Linked DNA regions of Homo sapiens. The protein of the gene in region 2 interacts with the protein of the main gene of each other region in a biochemical or structural test. Each region holds a gene or a part of one and is shown on either strand. Other genes may lie near its edges.

What was found.
Region 1: the proteins of DCC (region 2) and PSG7 interact in a biophysical measurement, tested with the Homo sapiens proteins (one large-scale study listed by IntAct).
Region 3: the proteins of DCC (region 2) and LTF interact in a biophysical measurement, tested with the Homo sapiens proteins (one large-scale study listed by IntAct).
Region 4: the proteins of DCC (region 2) and IGFBPL1 interact in a biophysical measurement, tested with the Homo sapiens proteins (one large-scale study listed by IntAct).

What each region holds. Positions count from the first base shown.
Region 1 is NC_000019.10:42,921,704-42,929,752, reverse strand, and holds the end of PSG7 (pregnancy-specific beta-1-glycoprotein 7 isoform 1 precursor), read left to right. Parts: intron 1-32; coding exon 33-311; intron 312-3,036; coding exon 3,037-3,315; intron 3,316-3,725; coding exon 3,726-3,980; intron 3,981-4,928; coding exon 4,929-4,945; 3' UTR 4,946-5,621; downstream 5,622-8,049.
Region 2 is NC_000018.10:52,750,299-52,758,271, forward strand, and holds part of DCC (netrin receptor DCC), read left to right. Parts: intron 1-1,755; coding exon 1,756-2,076; intron 2,077-7,973. UniProt on the Homo sapiens protein: Receptor for netrin required for axon guidance. Mediates axon attraction of neuronal growth cones in the developing nervous system upon ligand binding. Its association with UNC5 proteins may trigger signaling for axon repulsion.
Region 3 is NC_000003.12:46,432,601-46,439,954, forward strand, and holds the end of LTF (lactotransferrin isoform 1 preproprotein), read right to left. Parts: intron 6,881-7,354; coding exon 6,696-6,880; intron 5,530-6,695; coding exon 5,340-5,529; intron 3,630-5,339; coding exon 3,595-3,629; 3' UTR 3,045-3,594; downstream 1-3,044. UniProt on the Homo sapiens protein: Transferrins are iron binding transport proteins which can bind two Fe(3+) ions in association with the binding of an anion, usually bicarbonate. Lactoferricin binds to the bacterial surface and is crucial for the bactericidal functions.
Region 4 is NC_000009.12:38,408,316-38,416,288, reverse strand, and holds part of IGFBPL1 (insulin-like growth factor-binding protein-like 1 precursor), read left to right. Parts: intron 1-2,085; coding exon 2,086-2,195; intron 2,196-2,935; coding exon 2,936-3,052; intron 3,053-4,739; coding exon 4,740-4,889; 3' UTR 4,890-4,898; intron 4,899-7,071; 3' UTR 7,072-7,973. UniProt on the Homo sapiens protein: IGF-binding proteins prolong the half-life of IGFs and have been shown to either inhibit or stimulate the growth promoting effects of the IGFs in cell culture. They alter the interaction of IGFs with their cell surface receptors.

The DNA.
Region 1 (8,049 bases), on a different chromosome or scaffold from region 2:
ACAGGGCAATCTTCTCTCTGTTTTCCGCACAGTGGAGACTCCCAAACCCTCCATCTCCAGCAGCAATTTCAACCCCAGGGAGGCCACGGAGGCTGTGATTTTAACCTGTGATCCTGAGACTCCAGATGCAAGCTACCTGTGGTGGATGAATGGTCAGAGCCTCCCTATGACTCACAGCTTGCAGCTGTCTGAAACCAACAGGACCCTCTACCTATTTGGTGTCACAAACTATACTGCAGGACCCTATGAATGTGAAATACGGAACCCAGTGAGTGCCAGCCGCAGTGACCCAGTCACCCTGAATCTCCTCCGTGAGTATCTTCTGTTCCTCTGTTAGCCAGGCTGCCATCCCAAATACACATGGCCAGAGGCCGGGCTTCTCAGTCCCTCTCAGGTCCAAGTATGTAGACCTTTACCCCTGGACATCAAAGCTGGTGGTGACTTCCTGCCCCAGGCAAACCAGAGTAGGCCTAGGCTTGATCCACAATAAGAGAAAAGAGGCTGCTCCTGTCATGGGAGACTCAGGGTCCACAGCTTGTGATGGAAGAAACAGGTGAATGTCTCAGGCTCCAGATCATGAACACAGCGGGGATTTGGCTGGGACTTCAGTGTTGCGACTTGACTCACAGGGTCACTGTGGCCCTTCCACAGACCAGGATTTTACCTTCCCTCTGACAATATCACCTGTGACATTATTCTCTTTGCTCCACATGGCCTGGATGCCCCCACCATTTTTTCCTCATACACCTATTACCATACAAGAGAAGTCCCCAAGCTCCCCTGCCTCACAGATTCTCATCCACTGGCCGAGCATTCTTGGCTGATTGATGGGAAGTTCCAGCAATCAGTACAAGTGTTCTTTATACCCCAATTCACTAAAACATATAGAGGGGTCTATGTCTCTTTCATCCATAACTCAGCCACTGGTGGAACAAATCTCATAATCAAGAGGATCATAGTCCCTGGTAAGTGGATCCCTGGAGCATTGGCAATATGTTTTCCAGGGAAGTCTATCTGGCTATCAGGGAAGAGCCACCTGCCCTCTGCAGAGGGAGAGGGAAAATCAAAACTCAGGAAAGGGAATATATTTCTGCTCCAAAACCACCAGGTTTTGCCTGTACCCTTCACTCTTTCTAGATCATTCTTCAGACTATACACTAACAATGAACAATCTGAAAAGAAATTAAGAAAATAATTTCAATTCACATTAACATCAAAAGGAATAAAATATTTTGGAATAAGTTTAACCAAAAAGGTCAAATGATTATACCCTGAAAACTACAAACCTTCCTGAAACAAATTAAAGATGATATCAATATATGGAAACACATTTCATTTTCATGGATTGGAAGAATCAATATTGTTAGAAAGAAAATACTACGCAAAGTGAGTTGCAGATTCAATGCAACCCCTACCAGCATCCCAGTAACATTTTTTGCAGAATTAGAAAACTCTGTCCTAAATCTGAGCTGACAGGCTCTTCTTAATGACTGCCACAACAAAAACACTGAGAAAAAGATGCAACCATGAAAAGGTGGAAAGTTCTCATGACATAGAAAATAGCAATCAGCCTTTCTCACATGCCAAGGCATTCAAAAATATACAAGTGCAGCATGGCCAGTATGGAATTCACCGAAAACTAATCACCAAGCTAGAAACGTGGTGAGAGAAAAAAAAGGGCAAGAATATCTTTGGCTTATCACCTCCCACTTATGCCTACTAATCTGATGCTGAAAAGAAATGCTCACTGAAGCATCTTAGACTTTGAATCTATCAGATTTGGGATGCTTAACCAGTAAGTATATGACAAATATTTCAGAATCAAAAAATGAAAGAAATGCAAAACACTTTTTGTCCTAAGTTGTAGGCATAAGAAATACTCCATCTTTGTGAACTATAGGCATCAAGCTCTACAGCAGATCTCTAGAAACTCCCCATCTTGCATAAAAGAAACTGCCCACCCATGAACAACTTCTGATTCTCCCCACTCCCAGCTCCTGGCAACCAGCAGTCTCTTCTCATATTCACTCTGGAATCCACTTACATGAGGTCCCTAGAGTAGTCAACCCCAAGGAATCAGAGAGTAGAATGTCCAGTGAAAGAAAATATTTGCAAAACTTCTCTCCAAATTTGTCTTATATCCATCAAACACACATGGTCCATGAGGACCAGATTTCCAGCAGTTCATTCCCACACTTTCCACCAGTCAGTTCTGCATTTGCAAATGTCCACATGTATTTCTGGAAAGATCCACATGGTCCTCACCTGCCCTCTGCAGAAGGAGAGGAAACTTAAAGAACCCAGGACAGGGAACATGCTTCTGCTCCAAAACCACCAGCTCTTGCTTGTCCCCTTCACTCTTTCTAGATCATTCCTTGCACTCTGCTCTATCTTTAGAGGTCACTGGTTCAAGTAAGTCATCATGAAACACCTGCAAAAAACTGCCCCACCTTGAGCCTCCACTGCCTGATGACTGAACTGACCTCCAGGCTTGACTATGGTCTCCCCTGTGTTATTTCTGCTGAAACATCCAGTCCCAGGCCAGGCTGCTCAGTATCTGCAGGGTTTCAGGACAATGGGAAGTCCCATTATTACTCATCTCTAGAATGTCCTTGGAAATGGAAGTTGCAGAGAAATCACATCTAGGGGGGCAAAGTAGGATGCAATTTGGAAAGGGCCCAGCAGTTGCACATTCCAGGTAATGAACCCAGGGTGAGCCAGCCAGTCAACTCATTAGTGAGGGACTGGGAGGGGTACCAGGCGCTGTGACTCCCACTGACATGTCTGTCCATGACCCAGCACTGCTGCTCAATTGACACTTGAGAAAGTCTATGCTTCCCTAAGACTGAGCAGGTGGCCTCACAGTCTTTGAGCCCTTAGATCATCATGCATCTACCTTGTGACACACACACCAGCTATTGGCTTTCAAGGACTCACACGTGTTGACAGGTGGGAGATGCCAACTCTAATTGAAGGATGCCTGTGGAGGAATCAAAGGTGCCACACAGGACAATCTTCTCTCTGTTATTCACACAGCGAAGCTGCCCAAGCCCTACATCACCATCAATAACTTAAACCCCAGGGAGAATAAGGATGTCTCAACCTTCACCTGTGAACCTAAGAGTGAGAACTACACCTACATTTGGTGGCTAAATGGTCAGAGCCTCCCGGTCAGTCCCAGGGTAAAGCGACGCATTGAAAACAGGATCCTCATTCTACCCAGTGTCACGAGAAATGAAACAGGACCCTATCAATGTGAAATACGGGACCGATATGGTGGCATCCGCAGTGACCCAGTCACCCTGAATGTCCTCTGTGAGTATCCTTGAGTATCCTTTCTTCCTCTGTGGGCCAGGACACCAGCTTAACTCCAAACGACCAGAGGCCAGTCCTCTCAGTCTCTCTCCGGTCCAAGTATAGACATATTTACTTCTGGACATCCGAGCTGGCCATGACTCCCTGCCCTGGGAAAACCTGGGTAGGCACAGCCTTAACCAAGAATATAAGGGGAGTGGACGCTCTTGTCATGGGAGACTTGGGGCCCACAGCTTGTGATGGGAGAAACAGGTGAATACCTCAGGCTTCGGCTCAGTGAACATAGAGGGGATTTGGCTGTCACTTGAGGGTGTGTCTCGGCTCAGAGGGTCACTCTGTCCCTTTAAGAGACCAGGAGCATCCCCTTCCCTCGGATAACATCACCTGTGGCTTTATTCTCTTTCCTCCAGATGGTCCAGACCTCCCCAGAATTTACCCTTCATTCACCTATTACCATTCAGGACAAAACCTCTACTTGTCCTGCTTTGCGGACTCTAACCCACCGGCACAGTATTCTTGGACAATTAATGGGAAGTTTCAGCTATCAGGACAAAAGCTTTCTATCCCCCAGATTACTACAAAGCATAGCGGGCTCTATGCTTGCTCTGTTCGTAACTCAGCCACTGGCAAGGAAAGCTCCAAATCCGTGACAGTCAGAGTCTCTGGTAAGTGGATCCCAGCATCCTTGGCAATAGGGTTTTAGGTGCAGTCTATCTGACTTTCAGAGAAAAGTCAGGAAAACATTTGTATTCCCAGCCTGTGTCCCATGGGCACAAGCAAATCCCAAATTTTCCTCCTGAACCCTCCAAATTTGTCTAAGAACTTCGAAAACTTTAACAAACAGGCTGATATCTTCATAACATTCCCAGCCTAGACCAAGCAGGAAAAACATTGATTTCATTGAAATAATTGATAATAATGAGGATAATGTTTTTATGATTTTTATTTGAAAATATGCTGATTCTTTATGTGGATAGTTTTCTAGATTTATGGAAATTTGTCTTTTAATCTATCTCTAGCTTATAGTGGTTCAATAAACTATACTTCTGGGAATGATAATTGAAATATTTACTTTTGCTCTCTACCTGAATGCCCCAGAATTGGGCAACTATTCATGAGTATTGATATGTTTATGGTAATACAGATATTTGCACAAACAGAGTAACAACCTGCTCTCTTTGTAACAGGACACATTTCAAATCATTGGTTATATTACCAAGGCTTTGACTGGGATGTTATATTTAAGAATATAGCTAGAATGAACCAGTATGAACTGCAGGCAAACTCTGAAGTCAGCCTTGGTTTGGCTTCCTATTCTCAAGAGTTTTGTAAAGGTTTAATCTGAGATTCCTTATAAAAACTTACAGCAAAGAAAATTTTAAAAGAGAGCCTACATAGTCCATTGCTACTCTTGCTGCACTTATGTAAACAATCAGACCAAGTTTGAAGAAACTCAACCTATTTTGCAAACAAACTTATTCTACTGAAATTATCATTGGTAAAACTAGAGATGCCCATAGAGAGAAAAATTATGTGGAAAATAAAACCGTAGTACACCTGTTATGAGATTGCAGCTCTGTTCATTGTTTCTGTGTTTTTATTATCCACTGTAGACTGGACATTACCCTGAATTCTACTAGTTCCTCCAATTCCATCTTCTCCCATGGAACCTCAAAGAGCAAGACCCACTCTGTTCCAGAAGCCCTATAAGTCAGAGTTGGACAACTCAATGTAAATTTCATGGGAAAATCCTTGTACCTGATGTCTGAGCCACTCAGAACTCACCAAAATGTTCAACACCATAACAACAGCTGCTCAAACTGTAAACAAGGAAAACAAGTTGATGACTTCACACTGTGGACAGCTTTTCCCAAGATGTCAGAATAAGACTCCCCATCATGATGAGGCTCTCACCCCTCTTAGCTGTCCTTGCTTGTGCCTGCCTCTTTCACTTGGCAGGATAATGCAGTCATTAGAATTTCACATGTAGTATAGGAGCTTCTGAGGGTAACAACAGAGTGTCAGATATGTCATCTCAACCTCAGACTTTTACATAACATCTCAGGAGGAAATGTGGCTCTCTCCATCTTGCATACAGGGCTCCCAATAGAAATGAACACAGAGATATTGCCTGTGTGTTTGCAGAGAAGATGGTTTCTATAAAGAGTAGGAAAGCTGAAATTATAGTAGACTCCCCTTTAAATGCACATTGTGTGGATGGCTCTCACCATTTCCTAAGAGATACATTGTAAAACGTGACAGTAAGACTGATTCTAGCAGAATAAAACATGTACTACATTTGCTAATACTGTTCTCTTAAAACAATTTTAAAAGAATGGGGTGGGCCCTCCCATGTGTCCAGGCCTGGTCTCTGAACAGAATCCTCCATCTGCAGTAACAATGCCTCAGAAGATGACATGGACTTGGTCCTGATATGCAGCCATTCCTGTATACCCTTCCCCTGCTTCAGGGTCGTACAAGCCCAGGGCCCAAATCTTCAGCTGCAGAGCTGAGAGAGAACATGGGATACCCAGCATCCCTTACCTTCTTCCAGTCCACTGCAGTGGCTACTGGCATGGCCCATGTACCCCTGAGGACACCCATCTGCTGACACACAGTTTCTAAGAGTCAGACATTCCTGGCTTCTATGAACCCCAGCTACTTTCACTCTGCTGAAACCTTCTACTCCGTACAGGAGTCATTGACTTAACAGACTCCTCTTTCAGTTGCAGCTAATAGGTAAGCCAAGACCCAGACCCCAGAGGATAAACAAGGATTTCAAAACCTACTGTGTCCAATGGAGATGCCCACTTGTGGGCGGCAAGCCACCCAGGTGCTGAGGCAAGAGACTCAGGGCATGAGCTGTTCCAGTATCATAAAATATAAAAGAAGAATAGTTATACCAGGTACAGATCTTAGATATGATTATATATGAATATCATTAATTGTTAGTTGGTAGCAATTACTCTTTATTCCAATATTATAATAATCCTCGCTTTATAATCATAACCTAGGAAAGGCCAGGCCATACAGAGATAGGAGCTGAGGAGACATAGTGAGAAGTGACCAGAAGACAAGAGTGCAAGGCTTCTGTTATGCCCAGACAGGGCCACTAGAGGGCTCCTCGGCCTAGCGGTAACACCAGCGTCTGGGAAGACACCCTTTGCCAAGTGGACCGTGGTCTAGTGGTAGCCTCAGTGTCAAGGAAAAACACCCACTACTTAGCCGACCGGAAAGGGAGTCTCCCTTTCCCCGGCGGAGTTTAGAGAAGACTCTACTCCTCCACCTCTTGTGGAGGGCCTGACATTAGTCAGGTCCACCCACAGTTATCCAGAGGCCTAACCGTCTCCCTGTGATGCTGTGCTTCAGTGGTCACACTCTTAGTCCGCCCTCATGTTCCATACTGTACACGTGGTTCTGCCATTTAGTTAGCAGTAGCAAATTAGTGAAAGTACTAAAAGTCTCTAATAAGCAGAAATAATGCTGTAAGCTCTCTCTCTCATTCTCCTCCCTCTCTCTGCCTCACCTGCCAGGCAGGGAAGGGCCCCCTGTCCAGTGGACATGTGACACAGGTGGCATTTCCTATCATTGAAGATGGCACACATTCCTTATCCTGCCCCTTTGTCTTCTATCCAATAAATATCAGTGCAGCCTGGCATTCAGGGCCACTACCGGTCTCCGCATCTTGGTGGTAGTGGTCCCCCAGGCCCAGTTGTCTTTTCTTTTATCTCTTAGTCTTGTGTCTTTATTTCCACAATCTCTCATCTCCACACACAGGGAGAAAAACCCAACGACCCTGTGGGGCTGCTCCCTACACCCACTGTACAGAGACATAAAGAAGTTGAGATGTATACAACTCCCCCAACAACACTGTATCCCAAAACAATGTCCTCTCTGCCCCTCATCGTGGAATTCACTGTCTCTCACCACATGGGCAAGTGCTTCCAGGGTCTCATAATTCTTCCACAAGAGGCAATGCACACTTTAACATAGCACTTCAGCAAATAAAGTGGTGACAGTTTACCTACTTAGATAAAGTTTCTTAAAAGCTTCTCCCAAATTTCCCCCTGAAGAAGAGAGAAAAGGCTTTCCCAATTGTGAAACATTGGCCTCCCCACCTTTCAAAAAAGTACCCCTGAGTAGCTAAAACAATCTTGCCAAAATAAATTGTAGGACTTGAACTTTCTTATTTGAAATCTCACAAAAGAGTACAATTATTAAAATGGAAGCTGCTGCCAAAGAATAGACATAAGCTGCTGGCAAAAGAATAGACATAAAGACAAATGGGATAGAATTAAGAATCTAGAAATAAACCCTCAAACTTATGGTCAATTACTCCTTGAAGAGGGTGTCAAGACAATTTAATGGATGAACAATTCTCCTTTCAAATCATAGTACAGAAACAACTAGATAACCACATGCAAAACAGTGAATTTAGATAACTCTGCCTCCCACCATATCAAACAATTCTCTAAAAAATTGATGAGTGAGTAAAATATAAGACCTATAACCATAAAAACATCTTAAACTAGACATAGAGGTAAATATTGATGAACTCAAATGTGTAATGGATTCTTAGATATGATACAAAAGCATGAGAAACAAGAAAAACAAGATATGTTGGGCTTTATCAAGATGTGAGCCTTTTGTACATCAAAGGAAATTATCAAGAAAATAATTAATAGAAAAGAATGAAAGAAAATATTTGCAAACCACATATAGGCAGTTTTCATA
Region 2 (7,973 bases):
TATCCAGACAGCCAATTCAATGTACTTCCCACTAGAAGAACAGGATGTACTATAATTGGGTTGACTACACCAAAAGGATCTGTGGGGAGAAGGAGCTTATTTGAAAATAAAGACACCAGGCTGCTGTCATCTGGGATCTTTATCAATATCCATCTATAATAGAGTTATGTGCTCACCATTATTTTACAATTTATATTAATTCAAGCAAAGTTCCAGATGCTTTCTGAGTGAGTGGCCAAGGTGAAAGGAATGAATATATGACAGTGAGCGACACAAGACATCATTGGGCAGAATAACAGACTTCAAACGTAAGTTTTAGAAAAATTGAGTATGCAGGAACGAAGCAAATAAAACCAGGGAGAAACCGTAAGAAGCTGTTCTGCTTTCTCTTCACTGTAAAATGGGGTGTACAAAGATAGAAATAGTTCTGTCCATCAGGACCAGTATGAGTTAACCCCTTATGAGAATATGGATTACCTGCAATTTAGATGCCTGCCTTTTAAATGACAGAAGATTGGAATGATTTTACAAAGTACAACGAAAAGTGTTCCCATTACAGAAAAATGAAGGAAGCTAATGAAGTCAAGGTTGCTATCGTGGAAAAAAAAAATGAAGACTAAAACATAATTTAGGTGGTATTTTTTAAGAAATGAAATGCCATTTCAAACAAATAAAGGGCTCTTAAAGAAAATGTCCATCTCTTCTGCATTTTCACACAAGGTGTTTCAGGAGAAAATGGGATTAAACATCAGCAAGAAAATTCAGTTAGACTCTTAAAATGATTAAATATTGAAAACAAGATACCGAGGGACATTGTAGAATCTCTAGCCCCAAAGATTGTTCAAAATGAAATTGAAAGTAATTTGACTTGAATGATTTAAGTATACACCTGTCTGAGCAAATGGTGGAGCCAATGACCTCCTGAAACCTTGTCAAGGTCTTTGACTCAACATGTGAGTATTCTGTCAAATGCTATACTGCCAGCTTCAAAAACAATATACTTTAACTGATTATACTTGCTTCCTCCCCTCAAGATTCTTAAATGAATTTCTATTACCCTTGGTTGATTCTTTATGTTCATTTACGTTTATGAAACAAATTCAACTGTAATATTTATTTAGATTTCCAAGCCCATGAGAAACATTTGGATGAAAATTAAGACCCTTCAGGGATTTGTGATTTTAGGTAGTAGCTTTATTGACTTGCTTCTGCCAGTGGGATTTACCTATTTTAAAACCCACCTGAGCTTTGTCCTAAATAACTTTGCCCATGCTGTTCAGAGTTGACTTTTATTCTTATAGAACCCTGTATCAGATTGGATTTTTTAAAAATTTCAATGGATGCCATAATCAGAATGAAGAGATAGAAATAGTCTCCCCAAAAGTCTTAGCTACCACACTAATAACTATTGCTACTTTAAAATATCTAATTTTATTTGGAAAATATTAGTTTTTTCTGTCTAAATTTTCATGTACTGACTGATATGTGGTAATAAGCATGCCAGGATTTATATGAATTTGTAATTTCTCATAATATTAACTTTTGGAGCCAATTGTTTTCTTAATTATGATTACCTCGACTGGGTACTTTTTTGCTTATTTAACATAATATCCTTGATTTTAGTTTTTATTTATTCTTGGACATTGTTCAAAGCCCTCAGCTTTTGTGAAAAGCTTTGTAAAGAAAAGACAGGGAATCTAAGCCTGAGATTTATTTGAATACATGAACATATTTCCCTGTGCTCTCTTGTTCCAGGTTTTCAAATTAAAGCTTTCACAGCACTGCGCTTCCTCTCAGAACCTTCTGATGCCGTCACAATGCGGGGAGGAAATGTCCTCCTCGACTGCTCCGCGGAGTCCGACCGAGGAGTTCCAGTGATCAAGTGGAAGAAAGATGGCATTCATCTGGCCTTGGGAATGGATGAAAGGAAGCAGCAACTTTCAAATGGGTCTCTGCTGATACAAAACATACTTCATTCCAGACACCACAAGCCAGATGAGGGACTTTACCAATGTGAGGCATCTTTAGGAGATTCTGGCTCAATTATTAGTCGGACAGCAAAAGTTGCAGTAGCAGGTAGGTGGATTCTTCCTTCTCTTCCTCCTCCTCCTTCCTCTCTTCTTCTTATTCATTTTTGGGGATGAGAAAATAATTTTTGTAGAAATAATGTACATTTTAAAAATCTTTTAAATTTTAAGTTGACAAGTAATTATATATTTTTATGAAGTACAATGTCATGTTTTGATGTATGTATACATCGTGGAGTGATTATATCAAGCTAATTAACATATCTGTCACCACATACTTCTCTCTTTTCTGTGGTGAGAACATTTAAAATCTACTCTTTTAGCAATTTTGATATATACGTTGCTGTGCAATAGATATTAAAAGCTTATTTCTTCTCTCTCACTGAAACCTTGTGCCCTTTGACAAACATCTTTCCATTCCTTACCACGCCCCATCTTCCCAAGCCTCTGGTAACCATTCTGCTCTCTAGTTCTATGAGTCTGACTTTTTTATAATAGATTCTACCTGTAAGTGAGATCATGCAGTATTTTTCTTTCAGTGCCTGGCATGTTTCCCTTAGCATAATATCCTGTAGGTTCATCTATGTTATCACAAATAACAGGATTTACTCTTTTTAAAGGCTGAATAGTATTCCATTGTGTGTGTGTATGTATATCATATATACACACACACACATATATATATATATCTCATATTTTCTTTACCCATTCGTGATTGATTCCACATCTTGGCTGTTGTGAATAATGCTGCAATTAACATGGAGTATAGATATCTCTTATATACCCTCATTTCAATTCCTTTGGATATATACCCATAAGTAGGATTGTTGTATCATATGGTAATTCTAATTTTAGTTTTTTGAGAAAGCTACATAACCATTTTTCATAATGGCTATCTAATTTACATTTTCACCAACAACGCACATTTTTAAGAAAAAGGAAAGATGTAAAAAGATTCATGTTTATTCTGTCATGGATTTGACTGACCTTTCTCCTTAAATTATCTTAGAAAACAGTCATAGGACCTCAACTGGCTGCGTAAAGTTATGAGATTATTTTTTTAAACAAAACTGTTTCAAGTTGACTTACTACTTATATCTAAGGGAGGACTTCTCATTAACAGAAAAATATTAGAAAATATAATTTGCTAATTTTACTTTACAGCTTCATTAAATGCTAAACTTTTGCAGAGTCCATTTTTTTGTTGTGGGGCCTTAAGAAGAGTAAATTTTATTTTAATTATAGTGGCATGGCCTACAACATATACATGTCAAGTAAGAAATAAAAATTCCTTCTAGTGCTTCCAAATTTCTTAACGCTTGGTAACATGTTGGCTCAACAGCTGAGTAATAAGATGAACAGTTTTTGTTTTCACCTGGATACACTGAAGTCATGTAGACTCTGAAAAAATGGTACTGACCATTCTGGAACCCATGATATTGCTATTTCTGCCCCACTCTTCTGGTTAGAAGGCAGCTCATAATTATTTCTGTTGGCCCCTGAAATGTTAGACCTGCAAAGTGAAGAATCAGTTTTTTTACTTGTTTCTATAAAGATTTGACCAAAACCTGTCTTTTTTTTTAACTTTTATATTGACCATAAAGCAAGGCAAGCAGATTGAACTTGAAATAAATTTAAGTTATGAATGGGTAAGCAGATTTGAAGGGCTGCTTTCAACGTAATCTTTAGTTCTCAATAAAAACAATATTGAATCATAGGCTGTTTAGTCATTTGTTATGGGTTTTCTTTCCCAGGTCCTACTTAGTCTAGTCTCATCTTGGAAGACTGATCAGAATAACTCATTTTCATCAATAACAGGACAATTGGGCAGAATCACCACTCCTTCATGCACTCTCCTAGTGAGGGTCTGAGAAAGTTGAAATCTGAAAGATGTGATTTTGTCAGGTGGTGCTATAAAGAATTACATCTCATAGATATGTGGTTAATTCCCATATGTAGCTTCAAACCACTCTTCTGTAGCTTTTCTCCACTAAGAACTCTGTAGACTGAATGTTTTTTCTCCCTAAAATGTGTATATTGAAATTCTAACCCCCAATGTGATAGCACTGGGAGGTGGAGCCTTTGAGAGATAATTAGATCATGGGGTGGAGCCCTCATGAATGTGATTAGTGCCGTTATAAAAGTAACCACAGAACACCCCTGCTCCTTTCACCATGTGAGGATACAATGAGACGTCTGTAATCTGCAACCCAGAAGAGGACCCTCATCAGAAACCAATCATGCTGGCACCCTGATCTCAGATTTCCAGCCTCCAGAACTTTGAGAAATCAATGTCTGTTGTTTACAGCCTACCCAGTCCAGATACTTTGTGATAGCCACCCAAACTGATGAAGGCAGAGTTTTCCATAGTCAGTTAAGCCAGATTTTACCTAGAGGTAGACTGGCTAGCCATTCTGCTTTTCTTTGGACTGACTTGGCTTTTGCACTTGAAAGTCCCATATCCTGGGAAGCCACCTCAGTGCCAGGTAAAACCAGGACAGTGGGTCACTCTACCTCAAAGTGTCCCTGGTCTGCTTTAGCAATGACAGACTGAGGTGCAGATGCAGAAAACCCCCTCTACTCAGGAGACAGGCCAGGTGACATCCTGATGGTGAAAATCAAGGCTATAAAGTAACTGGAACCTTGGAGTGATGAGTGTCTGAAATTTGATTGATGAGTATAAAGTGTAGAGAGAACTGAATGTTAATGTTAATTATGATTGATTAGGAGAAACAAGTGGAATAAATCCTTCAGATTTGGTAAAAGCAGCTTTCTCAGAATGCTCCAAATGAAGTGGAAAGGGGACAATTTGACTTTCAGTCACTAGAGAATTTCTGGCCTCATAGATCCCACCCATCAGTTGTCCACAAGGCCAGAGGAGGTCTGCTGATTTGAATGAAGCAGGCTGATATTTTGATGCCTTATTATGAAAGGCAGCTGCCTATGCACTGTTAATGAAAATGGCCTGTTACATTGCAGTTTCAGTCTTCATGCAATCTACATTCACATTTACATGTGCTGTCTTTCAGTAGTGAAATGAAGAAGAGTTCCTTCGCTGTGAGATATTAAAATACAGTGGCTTGGACTTTAGTATTCTGTACAAGGATAGGCACACGGATTCAGTCACTGAGTTAAAATCTCATATTAGATTGTATCATTTCAAGGCAATAAGGCTGTTCACAGCATTTTAAACACTTACCATGCTGTTTGGCAACACAGAATACATCAATGTTATGTCTGCTGAGGTTAAGATTGCCAAACCACTAGAATTCACAAGGGGCATATATCTTCCCAGTAATAAAGACCATGGACCTGATTTAATCTCAGTTTTAAAGCATTAGCACTCAATAAACCAGTCACCACTAAATGGTAACAGTAGGCTTTGCTTGGGTAAAACAACAACAACAAAAAAATGTTTTGTACTCTCAGGTGCTGTATAGAGCCCATATTAAATAATGTCCCTCTTCCATTTTTGCTTTCTCAAAGTGTCTTTTGATAAAAAGAAGTGTAGCAAATGAAATCTGTCTTTAATCAGTCAGCACATTTTACACAATGATCTTGCCATGCACCATTCATCCTATTTTCTAGGAGCTTCTCAAGTGCTCTTAAAGGCTTGAGTGCACACTTGGCTGGAGAGGGAAGGAAAGTAGGAAAGATAAACGAAGAACTATCATTCCATCCAACATTTTCTTAAAAGTTGCAAAGTAACAGGCTACTGACTCTCAGTATTTCTAGTCATTTTGAGTTCTATCAGTAAAGAATACCTGGGCTATTAAGCCTCCATTTGAAAGCAACTTCATCATACTGGCTGAAATTTGGGAATTTTATTTTTATCCAATTAGCTCTAATCTAAAATGCTGCAGTGTTTCTGTGCCATGTATACTTCTATTTAGTCCTCTAGATTGAGAACAGCTGAAGAAGGGAAGCAGCGCTGAACTTATCTATGAAGCTTTCCTACCATCCCCTCTACTGTGTATCTAGCAAAGTATGTCATGTTAATAGTAGACATTTGCCTTACCAATGAAGACCTGGGGCTTTATGCCATATAAAGAGAGCTTTCCGCTGTTGCCATCCTCCTCTCTACCTCTCCTTCTTTGTCTCCCTTCTACTCCTCCTCCTTCTTCACTGGATTTCAGCAGATCAAACTCACCCATATATGTGCATACATAAACATACTCTTAACAAACTGAGTTGGAATAATTTGCTTTATATCTCAATAGCCTACAAATTAATTAACTATTGAAAACTTTGTGATTAGAAAATTGACTGTTTGGGAATATTCAAGTGCCACTTAAAAAGGAAAAAGCATGAGCATTTCTTCATTCCTTCCCTAACCCTTACCGTGAAAATGAACTTGCATCTGGCCAAGCACATCTTCCCTACTCTAAACGTTGCCAGCTATCTGAGCCTCTGGAGTATTTTCTGTTCAGCAGACATAATAATAACCTACCTCCCAAGGCTGTGGTAATTTTCAAACAACATCTAGGATGTAAAGCTCTAGTGCAGAGTAGATTCTTATTCAATGACAGCCATAGTATAAATAGAACTAACAATTATTATTATTGTGTTATTTTAATAATTATTAGGAATGAACAACTTTCAATATTCCCATGTGATGATGCAAAATATTTTTTTTCAGGGCAATGAAAAATAGGCAACAAATCCTGAGACATACATATTGTAATCTTGGATCAGATATCTGCCTTTGCAATCTGTGAACACAAACTGGCAAGCCTGAATTAAGTTTTCAAAAAGTTAAATCTATGGGAGATTTTTTGGCAAGCAGTGCCCAAATCCCTTGGAATAAAAGATTCATTTTTGACCACTGGATCTACTATTATGTTAATGCAATCAATACAGTTTGTACTGACCAGAGCAGGCGTTTGAGATTGAGTGACCTTGCAATCATTTCCAAAACATGTACAGGGCACTCCTCTCAGCCTTCTTAATGGCTTTTCAACTGAAAAAGATTCACTGAAGCTGGTTCATGGGAGTTCACTTGGTCTCGACTTGGAGTTTAACACAACTGGTACCCTCCTGGGGATGAGGAATTAATTCTAATATGTAAGAAGACTAGATAACAATAGATTTCCTATGAATAAACATAAAAATCCCATTTTATTTTGCTTTTTTATACAACCATGACCCCCTGTCCACCCTTCCCCACACCTACCCACCCACACAGCTCCTTGTCCACTGACTTGCCCTGCACACTCTAAGGAGCACGGTTGGAGCCTAAGTGGTACTTCTGCTTGCATTTATACTTCTGGGGATGGCGTGGGACAGGCTCCTCCAAGGGTAAAGCAATGTTGACTGCTGGATACATTATATTGTATTTGTGTCCAGGTAGATTTGTCTTTGTTAATTTTTCAGCATTTACATTTTAACATTAAAACCACTGACTTGCTTTTTATAGCAGTTTCTGCTTCAGAAAGTGAATCTCTATACATTACCTTGTAATGCTCAGAAACTGTGATTTAAGTACCCAAATTGACAGGTTAAGAACTTACTGGAAAAAGCTAAGAGCTCTATGGCCAGAGATTGGGACTTAGATAGTCTAAATCCAGATGCACACTTATTCCCTTATCACTTTGCTTCTCAATCTAAGGACTAGATTTCAGAACGCTGTAAACAATTTCTTATGTAATCAGTCATTTATTTTTAATCAATGAAACTCTCCACAATACAAATTAAGGAAAATAACAATAATGGTAATAATGATAATAATAATGAAAATCGATTTATCCACTTAGTCCCTTGAAAATGTCAACTCCTTGTGGGAAACACTATGATTTAGATGTTTTCTTCTAAGATGAGAAGATTTTGCTATCATAGCTATACATTCAATAGTGACACATGACAAATCTGTGTCAGAAAAACAGACAGCATATAATTTTTAAAATAAGCTCATAAATAATGATCTTTCTAGGAACACAATTTGGTAAT
Region 3 (7,354 bases), on a different chromosome or scaffold from region 2:
TTGTACTGTCTCTCTTTATTTCTCAGCTGGCCAACACTTATGGAAAATAGAAGGAACCTATGTTGAAATACTGAGGGTGGGTTCTCCCAATAAAGTGGTAATGTTGAAATCCACAGTTCTATGGTTAGGGGAAAAGCACAAAGCTTGATTGCATTGTCATTTTAATCACACTCATATTTGTGTAACCAACTTAGAATATAACCAAAGTGAGTATCTGTGGGACGTTGTGAAAGCCCATTTGCAGGGAGCTTTCACATCTAACATCACCTTTGATATTGGTGAATTACAAAACAAAATTCTTGATTTACATAGGCAAATTCAAGAGTTTCAGCCTTCTTTAGAAGACTGGACCAAATTCCAGCAAGGCCTGGAGAGCCTCAATCCTTGGACTTATCTAAGGCACTACATTAACATCTTACATGTAGTTCTTGGAATAATATTGTTTTGTCTCTGTCTTCTGTTCATAGCCTGTAAAATTGGATGGACCACCAATCGGAAAATGAGAGCTGCCCACCCTGGCCTTACATTCTTTCAATTAATTCATAAACAGAAAGGGGGATATTTAGGGAGCCTAAGGCTCGTGGGACTGACCAACTCATCATTCCACTGGAGGCTATATGATAAAACAGCAAACTGTTTATCATGAATGCAGGATGTGGGCAAACTCACGACTGCTCCCACTGCCAGAAGGTTTGCTGAGGGCAATCACTTCCTGGCACCAGGCTCCTTGAGGTTATCTACTGGGACATCTGGAGAATGCAGTCTTGCAAGCCTACTGTGGACTGAGCAGCTGATCCCTTCTTCCACACCCCCCTTCTCACTATCTCTTTTGTCTAATCACTACGGAGGGTTGTGTAAAGCTCAGGGCCCTTGTCCACTAGAGGCAAAGTGCCCCCTGACCGCTTCTTCCAAATATACTCTTTTGTCTCTTGTCTTTTATTCCCACGTTTGCCCCCTTTGTTCAGTTTCCCTAGGTCCATGTGGGTTACATAGTGGCAACCTGAACAATGACAGAATCAGGTGCTCTACAGAAATAACTTTTTAAGGAAAGATTTGGGACTTAGAGACCCCAGGAGACATACACAAAAATGATAAGAGGATGTGCCCAAACCAGTCTTAAAGTTGTGGCACAGGGTGAGGAAGATGAAGCTGTTACTGAACCTCAGAGAGTGACTGGTGTTACAGCAAAAGTTAGCAATGGCCTGAAGGGAGGGTTTCTGAAATCAAATATGAATGATTCCCCCTCAGGGAACCCAACCTTGGGAACTACTGCATGGTTCTCTGTATGGGAAAATATCATTAATGCAGGATAAATTGTGAAATATCACAGGAAGCATCCTGCATCTAGTCAATCTTCTGTTTCTGGGGTGGCCTGTGCAGCTGTGCAGGCAGAGGCCCAACCATCCTGGTGAGTGGCACACAGGGACTGAGATCCAGCCACACCTACCAGGCCATGCTCTGGGAAGGGGGTGGGACCTGGGCAAAGGACACCTCTCTAGGACTGCAGAGAAGCCTTTGTGGGTGGGTGGGACATTCCTGTGATGGCCTTCTGGCTGGGCACTATGAAATGCTCTGAAGATTTTTCCTTGCACTGTTGCACTAACCCCAGTCCTCTATCACTGCCCCTTCCTCCTGGGCGACTTCACTGATGTTGTGGCCATGTGAATTCTCTGGCCAATGAAATGATAAAGATGATATGGCCTCTGCCAAGCAGACACTGTAAGTATTATTGTATGATGCTTTTGTCTCTTTTTTTTAAGTTAAAGCAGTTTATTAAGAAAATAAAGGAATAAAAGAATAGCACTCCATAGGCAGAGCAGCTGCCTCTGTCTCTTATATTTTCCCCTCTGCCTCAAGCCCAACATGCCCAAAATTGGGGCTGCTGGTTCAGCCTGGGTCTCAGAATAAAGACATGAGCCACAGATCCATTGCTGACCCATGATGGAGATGGACACAAGAGAGAAACACATTTTTGTCATGTTAGCCACTAAGATTTTGATTTGGAGGCCATTTGCTACAGCAATATAACCTAGCGTGAACAGAGAGACACAGCGATGTTCCATTTCTTTTCAACCTGGAACAGGAGAATTTCATAGGTGGGCCTCAATTTCACTTTAGTATCTTATTTAGACAAGAAAGTTCATACTGTTCAAATGTCATGTTTAAGAGTGCTGGCATTATCACTGCTGTGGCTACCCCATCAGATGTTGCTCACTGACTAATCTTCTCATGTTAGTGAGGATGGACAACATATCAGGCCATAATTCAAAGTAGCAAATAGGAAAAGAGCTTCATCCTAGCATTATGGGACCTTAATTAATGTCCTTTCCTGACAGGTTTCAGAGGCTTTTGCAGGCAGCAGCAGAGCTATTCATCTCACTGACAGTGGGGAACATGGCCAAATGGTTGCCCCCACAATGGAGGCAGAGTTTCAGGACACTTGTCTGATCTCTGCCCTTGAAGGAACAGTCTCACCCTGATTGACACTTTTGCCTGTTATGTCCAAAGAACCAATGGAAAAGCAGGAAAATTATTCCTTCTTCATTTCTCTCTTCATTATTTAAAATTATTCTGTCTTCACTTCTCTCTCCTTTTCTCTGCTTCCTACTTAGCTCTTTAGAAATGCAATTATAATCTTTTATCTCCCCTTCACCAGACACTCCCAACAGGGCAAGTTCATCTAACTATGTGCTCTTAGTTAGACGCTACAGAGCAGAACTCTCTCCCACCAAGAGACTACCTTGAGACATAACAGTCAATTCACAAGCCAAAATATGCCCGCTATGAAACTCTCCCATCTGGAAATTTTTTGGCTGCTTTTACAACCTAGTTTTGCCCACAAAGGCACCAGCAGTAACCAACTCAACTGCCTGGTAGACAAGGCACCAAAGCCAGTACCCAGACCCTCTACCTGCTCACTTCCTGCCTTGCATGCCACGCCCCCCATTTAAAAGCCTCTGCTTTCTGCTCCAAAGGTGAAGCAGTTACCCTTAAGGAAAGAAGCCTGTACTTCTTCCCCTAAGGTAGCTTTGGAATAAAAGTCACTTTATACCAAACCTAGCTCTTGTTAATTAGACTCTGCAAGTGATGAGCAACTGAACCTACATTTCAGTTATAATTCCTATGCTTGCTCTTCCTGCCCTGCCTTGGGGACACGCACACACTCCCAGGCACATACATGCACGTGCACTGAGACAGCTATGTGAATAACCAACAAGATCCCCTTAGGAAAACCGGTGCTTGGCCTGGCCTTAAATTCCAGACCCTTGGGCATCATACCCAAGACTGCAAGAAAGAGGAGGGGCTGGACCTGAAAAACTTGGAAGGGAAGGTCCAACTGTACAGGTATTTTGTCAGGCATGTGATTTCAGTATAAAATTCTAGAAAAGATGAGTGACACTTTATAAGGAGAGAATATCAACAAAATTTCTCATTTTACTTCTTGCTAAGACGACAGCAGGGAATTGTAAGCAGATGGATGGGCAATCCCCACCTTCAGCAGGGGAGGCCAAGGCCCCAACACACCTGGGGAGAAGAGCTGGGGGCAGTGAATGGCTGAGGCTTTCTTGGGGAGCTGGGCCATCTTCTTCGGTTTTACTTCCTGAGGAATTCACAGGCTTCCAGGAGGGCTGTGGGACACAACAGAGCAAGAGATTCAGAAACTGATTTCTTCCATTAAACCAGTTATTTAATCCAATAAATCAAAGAGAATACTAAGAGTTTTCTCTGCCCTTCTCCCATCACTGAGTCAGTGCTTGCCACACTCATATTCCCACTCCCCTACTCCTAGCGACTACGGTGTTCAAGGGAGCCAGAGTCTAGCCCTCACCAGCCAGGGTGTTTCCCTGCTCTGGCCTGAGAGACACAACCACCCTGCACTTGTCTCTGATTGAATCGACTGTCACATTCTCAAGTTCACAAGACATTGGTGGTCCTCTAGCTTCTCCCGGAATGTGAACCTGTTTGCAATCATGTTCACCTGCAGATTCACTCATTCATTCACAGATCCTTACTGAGCACCTGCTTTGTGTGAGTTGCTGTGCTAAGTGCTGGGGACACAGCATGGATAGACTGGCCTGCCCTCAAGAAGCATGTGGTCTATGCAGTCCTGAGCTGGCTGCTCACAAGAAGAGCCCTGTAGCCATATTTCTCAGAGGGTGGTCCTGACCTGCATCACAGTGACCTGAGTTGTTTGTCAATACAGAAAAGGGTTTCTCAACCTTGGCACTATTGACATTTGGGGCCTGATAATAACCCTTTATTGCAGGGGGCTGGCTGTGCTTTGTTTAGTAGCATCCCTGGCCTCTACCTATTTGTTACCAGCAGCACCCTCTATGTTGTAAGAATCAAAAAAATGCTTCTCACATTGTCAAATATCCCCTCAGGGGAAAAATTGTCTCTCATTGAAAACTACCGATAAAGACATTTCTGGCCCTGCCCCCATCCTTGGACCAACAGCATCCCTAATGCCCCCAACTCTGGGTGAGGGACCAGGAATAGGAATCTGAATGATTGCAGTGCACAGGGAGCTGTGCACACTGAAATCCCACAGTTATCACCGGGAGCCTTACAATACTCTGTGATGTCTTCTAAATATTTTTAAGGGATTAAATTAATATCAACATATTTCCCTGGTTAAGATGTGTTTTCCTACACTTGAATTTTTTTGAGATTTTGTTTTCTCTATAGTTGGCATCTATGGTAACTGTCTAGAATCAGATTTTTTTTTTTTTTTTTTGAGGAAGGGTCTTTCGGTGTCACCTAGGCTGTAGTGCAGTGGTACAATCATAGCTCACTGCAGCTTCAACCTTCTGGGATCAAGCAATCCTCCTATTTCAGCCTCTCAAGTAGCTGGGACTAGAGGTGCTTGACACCACACCAGGCTAATTTTTAAAATTATTTTTGTAGAACAAGGTCTCTCTGTGTTGGCCACATTGGTCTCAAACTCCCGGGCTCAAGCCATCCTCCCACCTCTGCTTCCCAAGGTGGTGGGATGACAGGTGTGAGCCATCACACGTGGCTGGTTTTGTCATTTCTCAATGCATATGTATATATGCACCTTTCATTTTACTGAATAAAATGGATTATCAGTTTCCAAAGATTTCATGACAGTGCCATCACTATCCGTACTATAAAATTTATAAAAATTTATTACATACTGCTCTATTTTATTCTCTAATTATTTTATCAATGAGATTATAATTTCCTGAACTGTAAAGAGATATTATCTTTCCTTAACATTTTTACACCTGTGTTCGTTCCTAGAATGCTGTTTGGCCCTCAAACCTTGACCTTCACCCATGGTGGTTTCTCGGGGATGCTAGCTAGGGTCTACTTACGGGAGGTTGAGCACTTTTTCAGATTAGTAATGCCTGCGACATACTGTGGTCCCAAATATTTTTCATATGTTGTTTTGCCATGGAGTCTGGCCAGACACTCAGTGTTGTCATTGAACAGAAGGTTTTTGGTTTCAGACTGGAATAAGCAAAACTTGTCCGGGCAGTCAGATCCATTTCTCCCAAATTTAGCCTGCGACAAAAGGGCAGACAGTGAGTAGCTAAGGAAAAGAGGAATTTATGGGTTAAAGGAGGCAAAGGGGTATTTCTTCCACCCAAGAACAGCCCTGAGAAAACCATGGGGCAGAAGGAGCTGAGTTCTGGAGTCATTCCACCTCCTTAGTGGAGTCCCCCACCCCACACTCCTGGTGGCAGGCCCGCCTTGGGCAGCATCCAGGCCTCGCACCACTTCTGGTCCTACCTCCTACCATCTGCCATCTTTCCTTCCTTCTTAACCTGTGACCTTTTCCCATACAACTTCTTATGGGTGACAAGGCAACAATGGAGGGGTTTTGAGATCTGCCCTCACAAGTCAATTGCTCAGGACATTCTAATATGCAGCTCTTCTAGAGAGGCAGGCTGCTAGGAAAACCCAGGCTCAGCCACTAACCAGCTCAGTGTGCAGGTCGGTCACCCTGCCTCCCTCACACAGTTCCTGCTCTGTCCCAGGCTCCCATGTGGGGAGACTGAGACCCAAACCCCTCAGTCACGGCAGCTCTCTCACCAGCACCACTGTGTGTGCACATTAAGAGCTCCATAAAGGCCAGTTATGGTGGCCAGTCTTGTTATTCCTGAGTTGTTTTCTTCAAAAGCACACAGAGACATGATGTTATATGATAAAAATAGAAGTTCTAATAAAATCCCAGATTTTAAGAAAATTTTGGGATTTCGTTCAAATCACATTTAGAGAGCCCTAAATCTATAGGGCACCTTCTGAGTTTGCTGTTTTAGAGGCCTGGCCTAGAGCACTGTTCACTCGGCCCAGGTTCAGGAAATGTCACCTGAGTAAAAAGCACTATACTAATGCATGTGGGAGGAAGGCTCAGTGGCTTCCTCATTTGCCAGAAGAACAGCAGGAGGGAAAAAGACAGCCTCTGAGCCAGGCAGTGATGGCAACAAGGCCAGGGCACAGAGTCTCAGCAGAAATGGAGTGAGTCCCAGAAAGCCCAGAGTCAAAAGCCTCTGTTGTTCTTGTTGACACTCTGGGCAACGCCACAGCATGAAGCCAATACTCTCACCATGAGCTTCAAGTAGAGGACTAGAGAGGATCGAGTGGGCTGGTGCACCTAGCTCTGTGATCTCCTCACCTAACATGAGCCCACACAGCTAAGAAAGCACTAGAAGCCCTGTGGTCCATACCTGTTGGTGGAGCAACACCTGTTTCAGGCGTTCCACCTTATCCATCCGAGACACCACGGCATGATTCGGGGCCATGGCAAGATGGCAGCTTCTAGCCTCAGTCACAGGCTTCCGTTTGCCATCGAGGCACAGCAGCGCAAAGTCTGCCAGCTTCAAATCCTTAGCCCATGCCTCATTGTTATTTCCTGGGGAGAAAAAGAAGGTGGCATCATCCACGCCTCCCCTGCTTAGCCAAGAAGTCTCTTCTGGGTGGGTGTGGCCATTCCACTGACCTCCCAAATGCACACACTGGGGTTGTGGTGATGTGAGGAACAGAGAAGGAGCTTCATCCTACACAAGCTGTACAAACTTCAAATATACCAAATATTAGTGCTGTGTCCATGCAATGGAATGTTATTCAGCAATAAAAGGGAGTGAAGTTCTGGTACATCCTGCAATATGCATGAACCTCGAAAACGATGCTAAGTGAAAGAAGCCAGTCACAAAAGACCACACAATAGGCTGGGCACGGTGGCTCATGCCTGTAATCCCAGCCCTTTGGAGGCCAAGGTGGGAGAATCACTTGAAGCTAGGAGTTCATGACCAGCTTGGGCAACATAGCAAGACCTCATCTCAAAAAAAAAAACCCACCACATATTATATGACTCCATTTATATGAA
Region 4 (7,973 bases), on a different chromosome or scaffold from region 2:
CTGAAAGGGATTGATGAAATCACATTTAAAATGTATGACTTTACATGAACAAAAGTAAACCAGGCTGATTGAGAGTCCCCTTGGTATCCAGGTCTTTCTGACTGTCACCACAGCGAGCCACTGGAGCACTGGTTTGGGCTTCCCTGGAGGCGGCATCCCAGCGCTTGTGTGGTTGGGGAGGCGCTGGCGGGACAATGTGAATAAATTAGACTGTCTTTGTCATCACAGATGGGGCTCCTGCCGGAGAGCTCAGTGTTGTGGCTCTCTGTGGCTGTCAGGCAACGTTAGACATCTAGGATCTTGGTTCCCGGGGCTTTGGCTACATTCAGGCACATGGGTTGGGCACCACCCTTCAGAGGGCCCTCAGATGGGTACAGCTGAATGAGTGGGTGGATCAGATAGAGGGGGAGGAAAGCAGCCTGGGATGGGGAGGGCAGTCTGTATTCAACTCACTGGTGGGCTGCTGGGACACCCAGGGGCTATGGGGCTCCAGAGGGCAGCCCCAGGATCAACAGGTGGGAGTTACAGGCTTTAGCTCTAGGTGAGGATGCACCTTCTTACCAGTGGAGCCCTCCAAAGACAGAATGGCCTGGCTCCGTAGGTGGTGAGTTCTCCATCCCTGAAGGCATGCAAATGGAGGCTGTGCGAGCATGTCATACGTGGTCAGGCACAGAATCACAGAGAATCAGGATGCTAAAGAGCCTCTCTAGTTTGAGACTGTGGCTCTAAGGCGATTTTCCAGAGATTTTTTGGCACTGGCTTGACAGGGTCTGCTTCCCAGTCTGTCTGGAGGGGCCAAACTAGTCTCCTTTCTGCACCCTGATCCTCCTGAGCATTGGGGTGTGATGCGACGCTGTCCGTCACCTCCTTCCTCCTGCCTTCTGTCTCCTCCCTTTGCTCTCCTTTTGTATTGCAGCCTTATCCAGGTGCAGTCTTGTGGAGAACAACAGGGCTGTCCTTGAGTCACCAGGCAAAGCCCTAGGAGTTCTAGACTCTGCAGTTTGATGGCCTGGAAATGAACATGTTTGTTCCTTGATTTCTCATGTGTTTGTTCATCCAGTCATCCTTTTGCTCCTGGCCCTCACTTGCATATCACATTAACTTACACTTTTCACTCATTCCATGGTTAGATCAGCCTGACCGCCCTAGGAAGCAGGGGTGTGATCCCCACCTTATAGATGACAGCTGGGTGGGAGCATTCCCTGGCCAGGCCTCTACACTGCACGTTGCCCAACACGCTGTGGTGCTGGATGCCAGGGTGGCTGAGTTGCTGTCCAATGCAGGTGAGAGCAGGTAGAAACGCCTGGCCTTGATTATTCCAGCCCAGTGTGAGCAGAGCAGATGCCAGGCATGGGGAGGAAGGCAGAGTGTGGAGTAGGAGTTTGAAACATCTAACACTGGGTCCTGTCCAGGGAGCCCATACCCTCCCTCTCCTCTCCGTCATGTTCTGGCAGTCTAGAACCACATTTCCCTGATTCCCTGATTTGCCCAGGCTTGGGTCGGCTTCTGGGGATGGGGAGGCAGAGGGAGTGGGGGAGCCCTGGGGAGTCTTTACCCTGTGCATGCAAATGGGCATCTTGAATGGACCGCAGGGGATTGAGCTCCAGGGTGTGTGCAGCTGTTCTTCCTGGCATTCTTCTTCCTAACACCCTCCACGTGGAAGGAGAAAAGCCCATCTGTTAGAAGACTCTGCCGTTGGTGGCGTGACACCAGCCCCTCTAGGAGTCGGCTGCCGTTTTTCCTGGTTGAGCTATAGCAGATGGCAGCCGGAGCCTGGAACGGACCCTGGGAGGGAGCACTGAGGCCCAAGCTCTGCCACAGATGGTGCTGGGGGAATTTGGGAAGTTGCCCTTCCCCTCTGGACCCCTGCTTTCCCATTGGTAAAACAATCATTGGATCAGGAGATCGGTCGGCAGCTTTCCAGGTCTGAGGAAATCTCTCTTTTAGGATTCCTGCCCAAGCGTGATGTGCCGCTCCCCTCATGTCAGGACATCACAGCGGGCTCTCCGCGGCAGGGGAATTTAGAGGTGGGTTGCTTGGAACCCTGCAGGGTAAAGGCTGCGTCTCCTTGTCTCCTCCTCCTAGCTCCTGTGGTCGTCGTTCCTCCCCGAAGTGTTCACAACGTCACCGGGGCGCAGGTGGGCCTGTCCTGTGAAGTGAGGGCTGTGCCTACCCCAGTCATCACGTGGAGAAAGGTATTTCTGTCCAAGAACTCATGCATCTCGTGTGTGTGTGTGTGTGTGTGTGTGTGTGTGAGAAAGAGGGAGAAACAGACGTGAGTGGTAAAAATGTTTTTCTTTTAAGTGTGTTTATATATATATGCCTTTATAGGTGGGCCAGAGGATGAAGAAAAGATATCATCTGTACCACTCCTCTGCCTCGAAACTTCTACCCCAAACCTCTCCCCTTGGAAGGGAACATTGCAACCCTTCCTGTGCCACTTACACCCTTGGCCACTTAGGGACCCAGAAAGCTGTGCTTTTACCCAGTCTGCTTCAGCTGCGGTGGCCATGTGTGTGTGTATCCTGCTTCACTTCGGGGCTGTGTTTCAGACAGACCTGGCTGGTGGCAGAAGACTCAGTCCTATTCCAAAACCAAATCTTCTAAAGACCAGTTTTTGAGAGACCGGCAAGGATCACAGCGAATGTTGTCCCCTTAATGTCAATAGCCCTGAGACAGGCGTTGAAATTCTGAATCTTTCTGTGGGATGGTGGTGATGTTCGGGTCTTTGCTGTCTGGCAGAGCGTGCTGTCTATATGTACAAGTAGGTTTAAAAAATGACTGATGTCATTTGCATAGGCATGAGCAGTGCTAGGGTTTCCGTTTTTGAGTCAGTGGGAGGAGGAGGAAGGAGGAGGGCAAGGAAGCCTATGGGATGGTCTTTATCCAGAATTGCTTTTTCTAAGCCCCCTCCTGGCATTCCTGTCCCCTGTAGGTCACGAAGTCCCCTGAGGGCACCCAAGCACTGGAGGAGCTGCCTGGGGACCATGTCAATATAGCTGTCCAAGTGCGAGGGGGCCCTTCTGACCATGAGGCCACGGCCTGGATTTTGGTGAGTGTTTAGGATTATTGGATATTATTGACTGACCATTATAAACCATCCTTTATATTTCTACAACACATTACATGTTTCAAAGCTGTTCTTACCCATTTCTCACTGGCCCCTCCAGTAACTGTGAGGCAGGCAGGGCAGGTTTCAGATCTGCTGGGAACATACGTGTTCTGCTGCCAGGGGCAGAGTGATGGCCCCACAGTGATGTCCACCACGTCCTCACCCCCAGAACCGTACGATGTTACATGGCAAGGTGGTGGGAGGGAGGTTGTGGTTGCTAAACAGCTGAGATAAGGAGATTTAAGATAAGGAGATTAGCCTGGATTATCCGGGTGGGCCAATTTAAAGGTGGGTCTTTAAGTGTGGAAGAGGGAAACAGAAGAGTCAGAGGCAGACTGAAGTGATTCGATGTGAGGAGGACTTGACCCACCATTTCTGGCTTTGATGATGTTGGAAAGGGCCACAGCCAAGGAGTGCCAGCATCCACTAGGAACTGGAGAAGGCAAGAAAATGAGTCTCCTGAGAGCCTTCAGAAAGAATGCAGCCCTGCCGGCACCTTGATCTTAGCCCCCTTTGGGCCTCTGACCTCCAAAACTGTAGAAAAGAAATGTGTTTGTTTTAAGGCACTCAGCTTGTGGCGATTTGTTACAGCAGCCCAAGGAACTAGTACACCTGCCTAAGGTCACCCGCTGGTAAAGGTAGAAGGTGGCACATTCGAGTCCTCCTCCAGAGCTCTTTCCTGCCACTCGCAGCACTTTTACCAAGATGAAGAATGCCACATGTTTGAAAGAGTGATGGAATGAGGAGATAGGGGTCCATGTTGGGTCGTCACTGTACCCTTCTGAGCCTCCATTTCCACTGTTGTTGAAAGAGGGCTTCAAACTGAAAGACCTCTGAGGGCCTTTGTGGCCCTGGCAGTCTGTGATTTACCTGTGAGTCTCCTGTAAAAAGAAGACCATAATGCTCACCCTTCCCCCACGACTGGCATGAGTTTAAAACGAGCTGATGTGCGTACACCAGCGCGTGGTCGGTAGGATGATTTGTAATTGATGGAAGCGGTTGGTTGTAACGAGAAAGCAAAAAAGACGCGAGCTGGTTATGGACCTGGCTGTGAACATCCTTGGGGTGCTCCCTAAGGACAACCTCCTCATTCCACCCACAGCTCTGGGAGGCTTGGTGACTCTTCTCCACCCAGCTGAGAGATTGGGAATGCAATTGGCTGTGCGGTTTTTTCAAATCAAGCACATTCCTCTATTTTCTTAGGAGAAAAGACAGGGAAAAGAGGTTATCTCTGGTGGTATTTTGTAGAGGCTGCCCCTATAGGGAATACTTTCTGGATCATTCTTTGGTCAGTAGATTTTTGTTCTTCTTTTAACTTGAGGTGTTTTCCAAATAACCTATACCTTGCACCTTTAATACAAAAGACCAGGTAGCTCACAGTAAAAGGCAGGTGTGCGGAGGAATCATTCAGATGAGAGCCACAATAGGGAGCGTGCCTTTCAAGAGGGTCCCTGGGAAGGAAATTTACCTGCGTGCTCCTTGGCAGCCAATGCAAGGAGAGAAATAGAGCAAGTTTTACCTTATTCTGAAAAGGAGGAAGTGTGCAGACTTATCATTAAGAACTAACTAAGGAAGTCATTTTGCTGTTCCTTATATAACTGTATAAACTTGCCTGTTGTATTTCTAGATCAACCCCCTGCGAAAGGAGGATGAGGGTGTGTACCAGTGCCATGCAGCCAACATGGTGGGAGAGGCTGAGTCCCACAGCACAGTGACGGTTCTAGATCTGAGTAAATACAGGAGCTTCCACTTCCCAGCTCCCGATGACCGCATGTGATGGAGAAATGTACATGTTCTAAGTCATTTTCAGTATTTTACACCCATGTTATGAGATATTTGAGGTGGCTTATAAGACCTGTAAAAAAAAGAAGAAAAATACGTAAATGGAGGAAACCAGGGAAAGAGCAAAAGAAGAGTAGGGACATACTTAGATGAGCAGTAGAATCCCTGGTATATTCTGCACACATCTCCCTCTGAGCTTCTTAGCATGCAAAGACAAGAGCTGTGAACATGATGTGTGTCCATGAGATGAAAAGACCAGTTGTGTTTTGGGGCTGGAGGGAATATTTCCTCTGTATTCTTCTAGAAAGAGCACTGAGAGAGGTAGCAGACAGTGTCATTGTGACAGCGTCCATGTGAAAATGTTCCCACAAAGAAGATGCCTGAGCTTCCTTTGTGTGTTCCTGGAGCTCTTCCTTGTTCAGGACACCTGAGCTTCCTTCCTGGGGCTCAGGCCTTGCCTTCCTGTCCTCAGCACTGTGTGCTGCTTTGCAACACATCTCCTTGTGGGTAGGGGCAGAGAGAATCTCTGCATCCCCTCTGGTCAAGGCCTCCTAGTCTGTAGTCACACAGGTGACAGCTGGGGTTGCATCTGTTCCTTGCCTACAGGTGAACTGGGAATTCGGGAAAGGGATCACTTTATAAGCCAGCTTTTGCTCATAAAAATCCCAAAATCTTGCTGGTTCACAGCCACAGACGTTGATCACTTGCTCATGTTCCATGTTATAGCTGTGAGCTGGCTGTGGCCCTGCCCCATGTGTCCCCTCATTCAGGACCCAGCTGGAGGAACAGCTCCAGTGTGGAACATGTCCGTTCTGTGGCCAGGCTGCACACACCATTGCATTTAAAGTTTCTGCTCGGATGTGATGTGTGCCCCGCCCATTTACAGACCAATCATTTTTTTTTTTTTTTTTTGAGACAGAGTCTCACTCTGTCACCCAGGCTGGAGTGCAGTGGTGCGATCTCGGCTCACTGCAAGCTCTGCCTCCTGGGTTCACGCCACTCTCCTGCCTCAGCCTCCCGAGTAGCTGGGACTACAGGCACCCGCCACCACACCTGGCTAATTTTTTTGTATTTTTAGTAGAGACGGGGTTTCACCGTGTTAGCCAGGATGGTCTTGATCTCCCGACTTCATGATCCGCCCGCCTTGGCATCCCAAAGTACTGGGATTACAGGCGTGAGCCACCGTGCCTGGCCTGCACGATCCTCTTACAGGAATGGGGGAGCAGTGGTGAACAGGCACCATTACCAAGGCTGATCAACAGGTGCTTAATAGAACAGGAAAAATTAGAAACAAGTCTGATAGGGTTTCTCAAAAGCAGGGGGATTTTGCCATGGTTTTAGTTATATTATTCTTTCAGCCACTACTGTTGCACACCTTCTGTGTGCAAGGCCTTACTTCTGGTCTGTAGGGGATCACAGAAAAACAAAAAGTGGACATAATTATAATACAAGGAGTGCGATGTAAGGGAATGGGAGGAGATATTAAGGCATGAAAAGCAGCTTAGAACTGGGGAAAATGAAGGAAGAATCATCGAGGAGGTGGCATGAGGATTGAAGGATGGGTGTACGTGAGTAGTTAGAGGCCCTAGAAATGGGGAGAAAAATATGAAAATGTAAAACTGTGAAATAGGAATTCAACAAAGAGTTAGGAGATTGGGTCTTAAAATTGTCTTCCTGATGATATGTGACTTGTTTTATATAGATATGTTTCCAGTTTTAAATATATATATCTATAATTTTCAAATACACGTATATTTTGAGGCAGAAATGATTCTGGGTTGTGAATACATCAAAAGGATACCATGAAAAATTGTGGAATTTTAAGAGCATCACTGCTGCCTAGGTCTTGAGTTCCTTCTGTGACACACAGTATTGCCAGCTCTGGCTTACATACCTCCAGGGATACAGAGCTCACTACCACTGAGAGCCATCTGTGGATTTTCCAATGGTTGAAAAGATCTTATTAAGCTGGAGTCTGCTGCTTTGAAACGTCCACCTTTTGGTCTTAAAAGTACTTCTTGGGACTCCACAGGGCCCTTCACTCTCCACTGGCACCATTTCCTGCTGGGGAGAGATTCGAAGTGAAGGATCATTTCCCCCACCTTCCATGTAACACATAGTTGATTGTAACGGAGCAGGCTTACGTTCTCTAATTCTTTCTCTCCTTTTCTTCCTAGGGTCTTAGAAACATTGATCATGGGATGATGGAAAAGTCAAATAACGGATCTTTGTGCTTCATGAAGAGTTGGAAAACCTGTGTGTGTAGATGACCCCTTTTGTGTGTTTTTAAAAATTAGATGCAAACTAGATCTGTATGCAGATGTAGTTTTTAGCAGGGCAAACAGTGAGAAACGGATTTGCATGTGGCTTTTTTATACTTTTGAAATGAATTGTTCCATGAGAAGTCTTTTTGTAATTATTCTCTTCCAGGGAGATCACAGAACGGCATGTTTGCAATTTCGAAAGGGCTCGTGTCAGCTGTGACTCTTTACCTCATTTGTCTATGACCTATTAGTGGTGCTCTGTGACTTAGTGTGTGTTGTAGAAGGAGGGATGAGGGTCCCAGCTGTCCTCTGCCTGACTGTAACTTGCTGTGTGACCTGAACAGATCCCTTCCCCTCTCTGGGCCCTGGTCCCTTCATCTGTGAGTATGGCATTTTAACTGGATGTTATCAATGTCCCTTTTAGCCCTGCCATCCTAGATTAAGATGGCCTTTTGGGAAAATAACAGGAAGTGTGGTCTTAGTGTTCTTTCTAAAATGGTATTCCCTCAGAAACAAATTCCATTGCTTTACCCCAACGTGTGGACAGCTGGCTGTAGCTCTTCTATTCCTAACTTTTTCCCTTTGAAGGAGATTTAGTTTTAGGTGGGATGCTTTACCAGACTCAGGAGCGCCTTGGCTGGGTCTTTGGAGACCAGAGCATCCATTTGTTAGCCTAGCATTCTCTTTTTTAAAATTTTATTTTGAGACAGGGTCTCGCTCTATCACCCAGGCTGGAGTGCAGTGGCGTGATCATGGCTCACTGCAACCTCCACTTTCTGGGCTCGAGTGATCGTTCCACCTCAGCCTCCTGAGTA